2 separate regions of the Homo sapiens genome follow, and region 1 is linked to region 2. Evidence: fine-mapped expression QTL. A gene starts in region 2. The other region holds a variant in brackets. All regions are shown on one strand. Distances are from middle to middle.

The links.
Region 1: its variant is fine-mapped to the expression of GOLGA1 in whole blood (INTERVAL, PIP above 0.99).

Annotation. Positions count from the first base shown.
Region 1 is chr9:124,995,536-125,000,915 of GRCh38, forward strand. It overlaps SCAI (suppressor of cancer cell invasion), which reads right to left. Exons shown (of 18, transcript NM_001144877.3): 13 at 4,356-4,455. Among named protein-coding and RNA genes, the nearest start is that of GOLGA1, 57 kb to the left of the region's middle. The variant CA/C (reference allele first, on the strand shown) is at 2,340.
Region 2 is chr9:124,938,217-124,943,596 of GRCh38, forward strand. GOLGA1 (golgin A1) reads right to left here and starts at 2,867. Exons shown (of 23, transcript NM_002077.4): 1 at 2,755-2,867; 2 at 1,890-1,939; 3 at 361-650. The coding sequence starts at 495. SCAI (suppressor of cancer cell invasion) reads right to left here. Exons shown (of 18, transcript NM_001144877.3): 18 at 4,392-5,380. RefSeq lists enhancers at 2,459-2,959, 2,960-3,460 and silencers at 2,542-2,911, 3,242-3,301.

The DNA.
Region 1 (5,380 bases), 57 kb after region 2:
GTACAGTGGTGTTGTGCAATCGCAGCTCACAGCAACCTCCATGTCCCGGGCTCAGGTGATCCTCCCACCTCAGCCTCCTTGAGTAGCTGGGACTGCAGACATGTACCAACACAACCAGCTAATTTTTCTCTTTTTAGTAGAGATGGGGTTTCTCCATATTGCCCAGGCTGGTCTCGAACTCCTGAGCTCAAGCAATCTGCCCACCTCAGCTTCCCAAAGTGCTAGGATTATGGGCATGAGTCACTGTGCCCAGCTACTTTTTACCATATGTTTCCTCTAAACATTTGCATCAAGGGCTTGTTAAACATGCAGTTTGACTGGCCCACAGAAGAGCTACTGAACCCAAAGGCGGAAATCCAGTAACATGCATGTGAGAGCCAATGCGTAAGGTCAGAATCTTGGTGTGCGTGCTCTTTCCGATGACTGAGTACACGATGTGCATATGTGGATAGATACTAATGTAAATGTAAATTTATGAATGTTTCACTGAGCAATATCATCAAACTTCATTATATTTCAAATAAAAGTTTTTCTTTTATTGACAAATAAAAATTGTATATATTCAAGGTATACAATGTGATGACTTGTTAATGCATACATGTATAGTGATTACCACGATCAAATTAATCAACACCTCCATTCCCACACCGTTACCCTTCGTGTGTGTGGGCGGTGGGGCGGGGGTGGGGGGGTGGTGCTGGGGGCAGTGGGCAGAGAGGACACATAAGCTTTACTCTTTCAGAAAATTTCGAGTAAACAACAATTTTTGTTATTGTTGTTGTTTGAGATGGGGTCTCACTTTGTCACCAAGACTGGAGTACAGTGGCAAGATCATAGCTAACTGCAGCCTCGATCTCCCAGGCTCAAGTGATACTCCTGCCTCAGTCTCCCAAGTAGCTGGGACCATGGGCGTGCACCTCAACGCCTGGCTCATTTTTTACATTTTTAGTAGAGACAAGATCCTCTTATGTTGCCAAGGCTGGTCTTGAACTCCTGAACTCAAGCAATCTTCCCATCTCAGCCTCCCAAAGTGCTGAGATTACGGGAATGAGCCACCATGCTCGGTCCAACAATACAGTATTTTCATTTATTTTTTTTTATTTATTTATTTTGAGATGGAGTCTCGCTCTGTCACACAGACTGGAGTGCAGTGGTATGATCTCGGCTCACTGCAACCTCCGCCTCCCACGTTCAGGCAATTCTCCTGCCTCAGCCTCCCAAGTAGCTGGGATTACAGGCACATGCCACCACACCCGGCTAATTTTTTGTATTTTTAGTAGAGATGGGATTTCACCATGTTGCCAGGCTGTTTTCGAACTCCTGACCTCAAGTGATCCGCCCACTTCGGCCTCCCAAAGTGCTGACATTACAGGCCTGAGCCACTGCACCCAGCCAATATAGTATTTTTAATTATCACCACCATGCTGTACTTTAAATGATATTTATCTTACAACTGAGAGGCTGCACCCTTTAACCAACATCTCCCTATTTTCCCCAATCCTCAGCTCCTCAGAACTACCGTTGCACTCTGCTTCTGAGTGCAACTTTTTCAGATTCCACATATAAGTGATCATGCCATACAGGTTCAGTATTCCTAATCTGAAAATCCAAAACGAAAAATGCTCCAAAATCCAAAAAGTTTTCAGAGCCAACACGATGCCACAAGTAGAAAATTCCACACCTGACCTCACATGATGGATCATAGTCATGCAGGTGCACAACACATAGTTTATCCAGGATCTCAAAGGGAAAAATAAAATTACTTTCAGGCAATGTGTATGAGTTGTATATGAAACACAAGTCAATTTCATGGGTCCCATCCCTAAGGTACCTTACTATCTATATACAAATATTCCAAAATCTGGAAAAATCCAAAACCCGAAACACTTTTGGTCCCACATATTTCAGATAAGGGATATTCAATATGTATTAGAAACAAAGTTTTAGACCAGTCCAGTTTTCTTTATAACCAGATTGCTCTCAGCTAGAAAAATTCTAGAGCCAATGAGCCAATAACAGCCCAAGCAATGAAGTTGTTATGCTTAGAAAAAGAATGAACTCCAGGCACGGTGGCTCACGCCTGTAATCCCAGCACTTTGGGAGGCCAAAGCAGGCGGATCACTTGAGGTCAGCATTTCAAGACCAGAATGGCCAACATGGTGAAACCCCATCTCTACTAAAAATACAAAAATTAGCTGGGTGTGGTGATGCATGACTATAATCCCAGCTACTTGGGAGGCTGAGGCAGGAGAATCGCTTGAACCCGGAAGGCAGAGGTTGCAGTGAGCCAAGATAGTGCCACTGCACTCCAGCCTGGGCGGCAGAGTAAAACTCTGTCT[CA/C]AAAAAAAAAAAAAAAGAAAAGAAAAGAAAAAAGAAAAAGAACTTTTGTAGATGAAATTCTATTTGCTTTTGTATTTTTTGCATTTAAAAAAATTTTTTTTTAAGTTTTTGTAGAGACAGAGTCTCACTAAGTTGCCCAGGATGGTCTCAAACTCCTGGGTTCATGTGATCCTCCTACCTCAGCCTCCTAAAATGTTGGGATCATAGGCATGAGCCACTGCTCCTGGCCTGAAGTTCTATTTGTAATCATGTAACAACATTCATTTGTGCTATATTAAACCAACAAAACCTTGTATTAAAAAATTCAGGCCCAGCGCGGTGGCTCATGCCTGTAATTCCAGCACTTTGGGAGGCCGAGGCTAAGGTCAGGAGTTCGAGACCAGACTGGTCAACATGGCGAAACCCCATCTCTATGAAAAATAAAAAAATTAGCCAGGCGTGGTGGTGGCCACCTGTAATCCCAGCTACTTGGGAGGCTGAGGTAGGAGAATCACTTGAGCCTGGGAGATGGAGGTTGCAGTGAGCCAAGATCGTGCCACTGCACTCTAGCCTGGGCATGAGAGCAAGATTCCATCTCAAAAAAAAAACAAACTCAATACTAGAGGTTGGGAAGGGTAGGGGAACGGGGAACGGAGGTATAGGGAAGAGATTGTTAAAGATTAAAAAATTACAGCTAGATAGAAGGAATATGTTCTAGTGTTCTATACCACTGTAGCATGACTATAGTTAATAATATGTTATATAGTTTTTATTTTCTCTTTTTTGTTTTTTTGACACAGAGTCTTGCTCTATCACCCAGACTGGAGCACAATCTCAGTTCACTGCAACCTCGACCTAATGGGTTCAAGTGATTCTCCTGCCTCAGCCTCCTGAGTAGGTAGGACCACAGGCGCAAGCCACCACACCCGGTTAATTTTTGTATTTTGGTAGAGACAGGGTTTCATGTTGGCCAAGCTGGTCTCAAACTCCTGACCTCAAGTGATCCACCCATCTCGGCCTCCCAAAGTGTTGGGATTACAGGTGTGAGCCACTGCTATCAGCCTTTATCATAAATAGCTAGAAAAAAGATATTAAATGTTCCCAACACAAGGAATGGATGTTTGAGATGATAAGTATGCTAATTACTCTGATCTGATCACAATACATTACAAATATAGAAACATCATTAAGTACCCCAGGAATATTTACAATGATTATTTTTCAATTAAAAAAATAAAATAAAATAAAATGTGGCCGGGCACGGTGGCTCACACCTGTAATCCCAACACTTTGGGAGGCCGGGGCAGGTGGATCACAAGGTCAGGAGTTCAAGACCAGCCTGACAAACATGGTAAAACCCCATCTCTACTAAAAATACAAAAATTAGCCGGGCATGGTGGCTGGTGCCTGTAATCCCAGCTACGCAGGAGGCTGAGGCAGGAGAATCGCTTGAACCCAGGAGGCAGAGGTTGCAGTGAGCCGAGATCATGCCACTGCACTCCAGCCTGGGTGACAGGGCAAGACTCCATCTCAAAAAAAAAAAAAAATGTTTGGGCTGAACACAGTGGCTCACATCTTGTAATCCTAGCACTTTGTGAAGCTGAGGTGGGAGAATCACTTAAGGCCAGGAAATCAAGACTGACCTGAGTGACAGAGGAAGACTCCATCTCAAGAAAAAAATTTGTTTAAAAGTTCGTATTGATGTTACATGTATAATGTCCTGACATATTATTTATTTATGTATATATTTACTGTCTCCAACTAGAATGCAATTTTGTTCACTGACATATCCCTAGTGACTAAACAGTGTGTAACATATTTATTCAATGAATATCAACCAAAAGTTCTAATTTCCTAGGATAGACAGAGCCTGAATTATTGCTGGAATCCAAATAAGTGTTTCTGGTCTGTCCCTAAATCTTAGTCTAAGGGAATCATTCTAGTACTAGAAAAAACTCCCCATTTTACTTAATATTTTTTCTATTTATAGACAGAGGTATAATTTTTATAATAAGAGTAGACACCAGAATACATACCAGTGCATTTCCTTGTGGGACTGATTTCGTTTGTGGATGGCATCTCCATTAATAATATCCCGGTTACTATTAGTAAGTACACCTCCAAAATCATAAGGACCTATAAAAACAAAGGGAAGAATCCTAGACTTCAGTTGAAGACTAACACTGACCTGATGTTCAAATACAAAGGTACTGTGTGAATCTCTCATTGATTCAAGCGAAGATAATTACACATTTAAATTATTTTAAAATTTAACATTTTAATTTAATGGAGTATTTAAATGACTTCAGTATGTTGTCATTTTCAACATTTTAAAAAACATTTAATTATTCAGCAGTTCTTCAAACAGAATATAATGAGAAACAAAACAAGACTCTATGGCATCATTATTCTAAGTAATAAAAGGAATGGAGATCTGGGATGTTCAAAATGACCTTTACATTTCAAGCAAACTTAAAATCTCAGGTTTAACAATATTATTTTAAAAGGAAGTTGGTCAGACATGGTTGCTCATGCCTGTAATCCCAGCACTTTGGGAGGCTGAAGCAGGAGGACTGCATGAGGCCAGGAGTTCCAGACCAGCCTGGGCAATATAGTGAGACCTGTCTCTACAAAAAAATTTTAAAAATTAGCCGAGCATGGTGGTAGGTGCCTGTATTCCCAGGCTGCAGTGAACTATGATCACACCATTGCACTCCAGTCTGCATGACAGAGTGAGACCCTGTCTCAGAAAAAAAAAAAGAAGTTGCAGAATAAAATAAGCTTTTTTTTTTTTAAAGAATGAAATCTTAGTCTCATAAGTAAATACAATTTTAAATGAGCCACTAACTGTAAAACTTAGAAAAATATTTGAATAGAATTTGAAAATTCTCATTCACAAAAACTTCACCTTTAAGAATGTATTGCCAGATTTCAGCGTGCAAATATCCATTATTATCACTATTGTATCAAGCACTTTAGTTCTGGTTCTGAAGTTAGCCTTTTCCCACTAAATTCATATGAATTAGCTAAACTCTTGTCCAAATGGAACAGCAACTGTGGG
Region 2 (5,380 bases):
GCAGCAATGACTTAGTTGTTATATAAGTATATATGTCTGCAATGAAAACAGGCCCAGACATTTTCAGAAATGAAATGCAAAAGAAGATGTATAAGGTATATAGACGGAAAAACAGTACAAGAGGACACTGGAGAGAATATGGAGAGGAACTCACAGAAAAATAAGGAAAAAAATATAGAGTACCTTAACATTTACAAACCAAACATTAACAAAAAGGTACCTCAGAGTAAGAAGAATCAGATGTACAGGCTCTTGTACAGCTATAAACCATGAAAGGTATGAAATAATCAAGCAATTTAAAATATTTATTGGAAGAATACCCTGCAAAAGTATCTTTATTTCTTAAGTAAAGGTACTTACAAAGTCATCTCCTGAGTCAGCTCCCATTGAGGCAACTGATTCCTTGCTCACAGACCGTGGGATCCTAGTAGCACCTCCTGGCCTCTGAGCAACAGCAGTCTCTTCTGCAATTTTCTTCTTCAGTTTTGCAAACATGTTTGCTGTGTGGCTATCCTGCACAGATGACGAGCTCTCAGTAGTCCTGGTGCCTGTGTTCAGGATTCAGACAGAGGCGCCTACAAAGTTTCAGACATCCAAGCTAGCTGCATTCCCACTTAAATGTGGGCCAAGGGCTTATGGCAACACAGGATCTACAAATCAGATGAAAGAGACAGTTCAAAAGTTAAACATTGGAAAGATTTCGCATCTGAGTTGTTAAGTTTTAGATTTCAAAACTAAGTTTCATAACTTACATGTACACTTATAGAACACAATTACTAAACATTTAAAAAGCACTCAGGTGCTTCATATGCATATACAGATGAAGAAACCCAGTCTCAAGAAGATGAAGTAACCTACCAAAGATTGTGTGGCTAAGTGGAAGGGCTGGTATTTGAACAGAGGACTCTGATTCACAAATCTCTACGTTTTTTTTTTTTAATTACATGTTGGCTATGACATATAACACACTTGGTAAAATGTCCCAGAGCAGACATCAACATCATATATTCATGACTTAATGATTTCAAATCCTTCCTCCAATAAGCTTAACTACAGTTTAGTGTTCTTTAAGTTGAAGACAAAAATGCATGTAATTCAATTCATATGTAATTCAATATTCAATATGTAATTCAATATGTAAAAGGTGTAATATCCTACTGTTTCAGGATGGTTTGCAATCAACTGTCCAATAGGAAAAGCTGGTAACAGAAAAAAGAAGACACACCAGACAACTCTATTATATAAGTATCTGATATCCTTGAACATTTTCTAGAGACGCTGTGTGGTTTTGAGTTTGATAAAATTACCTCCAATGAGTTTATTTTCTTTCTTTCTTTTTTTTTTTTTTTTTTTTTTTTTTTTTGAGATGGAGTTTCGCTCTTGTTGCCTAAGCTGGAATGCAATGGCACTATCTCGGCTCACCGCAACCTCCACCTCCTGGGTTCAAGCGATTCTCCTGCCTCAGCCTCCCGAGTAGCTGGGATTACAGGAATGCGCCACTATGCCCGGCTTATTTTATATTTTTAGTAGAGACGAGGTTTCTCCGTGTTGGTCAGGCTGGTCTCAAACTCTTGACCTCAGATGATCCACCTGCATTGGCCTCCCAAAGTGCTGGGATTACAGGCATAAGCCACTGCGCCCGGCCTCACAGTTTCTTTTCTTAAGAATGTTTGACATGATATTCAAAGTAAGATTCAAAAACCTTTTCCTCCTAATGGTGTATAAAACACTAATATTCTGGTTCCAACCTTAACTTTCCATGTTTTGTGGAGGATACCTAAGCTCTGCTCTGAGATACACAAATGCCATCTTACCACTTCAGATCCTCCATTAAGGCTGTACAATTCTTCAGAAACTTTACTTTCAATGTGTGTAAACCACTTACTCACCTGGCTTATCTACTAGATTTAAAACAGCTTGGAGGTCAAAGCATTCTGTCCTGCATGAAGACAAAGATAAAATGCATTGGGTATTTCTTTTCAAGTGTATGGCCAAAATGTTGGGTGGGGATAGGGGGAAGAAGTGAAGGAAGAGGAGGGGCAGAAGAAGGATTAAAGGGGGTAAGAAAACCTGTCACAACTCTCAATGGGATACCCTCCCTAACCCTGATCTCCTATGAAATTGTTTTTTGCCTAAGAGCTTCACTTACAAGCGCATAGAACAGAATTGATCACCGCAGCGGGTGCCTAAATTCACTTCTCCCTGGGAGCCCTGAGCAAAACAATTTGAATGAGGTTAAGTTTTCCTGGAGCCAGTATTTATTTCTCAGTTGATTACTACACTCACATACTGTTTACCCGGCCAGACCCTGGGCGTCTGGTCACGGATGTGCACTGACAAAAAGCAAGGCAAAATTGGGTAAAGACAGATGTCTAACCCCCAGGGAGGCAGGCAGGTGCCTGCCACGGCAGTTTGGATCTCACTCCCTCAGGCTACCTCCAGCCCCGCCCGTGCTTTGGACTGTCAAAGAAAGGAAGGATCCAACATCTCTCCCATTTGACAGCAAGGAAACTGAGCCCTAGAGAGGAGGAGCGACTTGTCCAAGGTCGCGCAGGGAGGAATCCCGGAACCCTAGGCTCCAGACTCCCAGGCCGGGGCAGCCCGCCTCCGCCCCCACTCTCACCCTTTCAGCACCCCGGTGCCGCCCCCCGCCTTGGGGCTCGGGCAACCCTGACCGGGCCGCTGTGGGGACAGACCGAGGCCACTGGGAGAATAAGGGGCCTGCTCGCATTCCCGGAGTCCTGGCCCGCGCACCTGCCTCTCTCTGGGAAGCCAGCAAAGCCCCGCCTCCCGGGCCTCTCGTGAGCCCCGGCCCGCGTCACCAACCCCCACCGCCCAGCCGGCGAGCCGAGCAGCGACCCGGAACCGCACGTCTCCCAGCGCGCCGGAAGTGACTGCGCGGTGGGGGGAGGGGGTTGGTCCGACGCGCGCATGCGCCCGTGCGCGGCCTTGGCGGCTACTGTTACCACCTCTGAGCGGCGACTGGGCCGGAACGGCTGGAGTTCTCGGGTGCCCAGCCGGGCGCTCCCTCAGCCCAGTTCGCCACGTCAGCGAGCGGCCAGAGCCACAGATGATGACTGAGTCTCCGAGGCCTCTCGGTCTTTTTCTATTTTAACAGGGGCGCGTGCAGAGCGTGGTAAGTGGGAGGGGCTTCGTGTCAAAAGTAAAAGAACCCAGTCGGTGCCACAGGCCCCGCTGTGCTGTGCTGGCTACAAACCCGGCCGGGGCTGCACTGCTTGGCCAGGCGCCCCCCCGCGCCGCCCGGTCCCGCCGCACCCTAGGCAGCTGCCTTGCCACCGTGTGACCCGGGAAGTCTGCGCCTCCAGCTTCACTCACAAGCCAGTAGCTCCAGAAACTAGTCCTGGGACCTTACACCTTGAGACCAGTTTTTAGACTTTGGCGCCTGTCACCTACTGTAGATGATGCGTTTTATATCGCAACCGAGTACATAACGTCCAGCAGAACCACGTTCTTACTATGTAATGCACTTAAAAACGCTGGTGGCAGCTCACTATATTGGATTAGCTTCACCATCCGCTGCTGGGCCGTCTCCTTTCTGCTTAGGAAGGAAGTTGAAAACATCAAAAGTGCACGGCGCGCGCTTCTGTGGTCCCAGCTACTCGGAAGACCGAGGTGGGAGGATCTCTTGAGACCAGGGCTTCCAGACCAGCCTGGGCACCGTGGCGAGACTCCGTCTCTTTAAATAAATAGCAATCATGCAGGCAGTAGGAAAATAAACAAAAGAGGAAAAACTATCTTGTTCCAAGTCACAGTCCAGGCCGGGCGCGGTGGCTCACTCCTGTAATCCCCACACTTTGAGAAGCCGAGGCGGGTGGTTCACCCGAGGTCAGGAGTTCAGACCAGCCTAACATAGCGAAACCTCGTCTCTACTAAAAATACAAAATTAGCCGGGCATGGTGGCCCATGCCTGTAATCCCAATTACTTGGGAGGCTGAGGCAGGATAATCGCTTGAACCCGGGAGGTGTAGGTTGCAGTGAGTCAAGATCGCGCCATTGCACTCCAGCCTGGGCAACAAGAGCGAAACTCTATCTCAAACAAAAAGTCACGGTCCAAATCAGTACCCTAAGTCAGGTCCCTGAACTCGTCAATGCCAAGCCAGCCATTCCACCTTAAGGAACTCTGGTTCCATCCCCAGACTCAACACAAGCCCAAGAATAAGCAGATTCCACCCAATTCTTCAACAGTCCCTTCCCTCGCGTGTTCCAGTTCTGACCTGCAGGAGCAGGGCAGGGAAAAAACCAAAACCAGGATTCAAACATTGACAAACTAACAAGAAGCATCAACCCCAAGATAGTTCAAAGCCTCTGAGATATTTGAATGAAGCAAACCCTAACAGTTCAGCTGTCAATACCGAAAAAGTACCAAAAACTTTAAGCAAATAATGTTTATTTTTATATTGATGATACACTTAATATATATGTGGATTCAAGGTACAAAATTCATGTACAAGAGTTCACACCTGATGAATGTAGACACATTCCTAGAGAACATTTATCAATGTGAAAATTTCTTTAATACACTGACAACAAAAATCAAATATTCTCTAATCTCGTTATTCAATAAACATCAAAACAACGTTTCAGTTTTCATCCTCTAGTACTGAAGTGCCCTCAAGGTGGTAGGCACTGTATAGCAGGAGAAAACATTGGAAAGCCTACTGAATCCGCTCTGCAGAATCACAGTGTTTACTCTGAAATTCATTTAGTGAAGTAGTGGAAGGCTATCTTTTATGACAAATCACATCTCATACAAGAGTCAAAAGTGATGAACTCAAGAAAATAAAATGTTTCAAGAACTTCTCAATTTCTAAAATCTATGGAGTATTAACCATAACAGACAAAGAAGAAAAAGGCTGCTGGAAAGGAAGAAAAAAACATCCTGTTTAAGAGAACGTATGGCTTAAGCAATTTAGAACACAACTGACAAGACTTTTACAATACCACAAATGTTCAAGTCAAATGATAGTGACAGTATAATTTTCCCCTTAGTCATTGGTAGTAAATAGCCCCTTCAAAATTTATTCTACTGTTAACACATATAAAAACTATGAATCCAAACAGTTTTGCTAACGGGGCTGAGTTGATGGATTTTTTTCTAAAGTATTAACTCACAATATCCAAATATTAATACAAATGAACGACAAGATTGTTTCAAAGATTACAGTGATTTGTGAATAGCTAAATAGGCAACCAAATAGCTTCATTATTTGCACGACAGATTAGCAGCACTTGGATAAGAATTGTTACATGAAAAATATTGTGCTTCAGTCTCTTGAGGAGAGCTAATATAACTCTATAATCCCTATAGTGTTAAAATTCTATAACATTTCAGTTACAGACAAGCACAATTGTTAAAAAG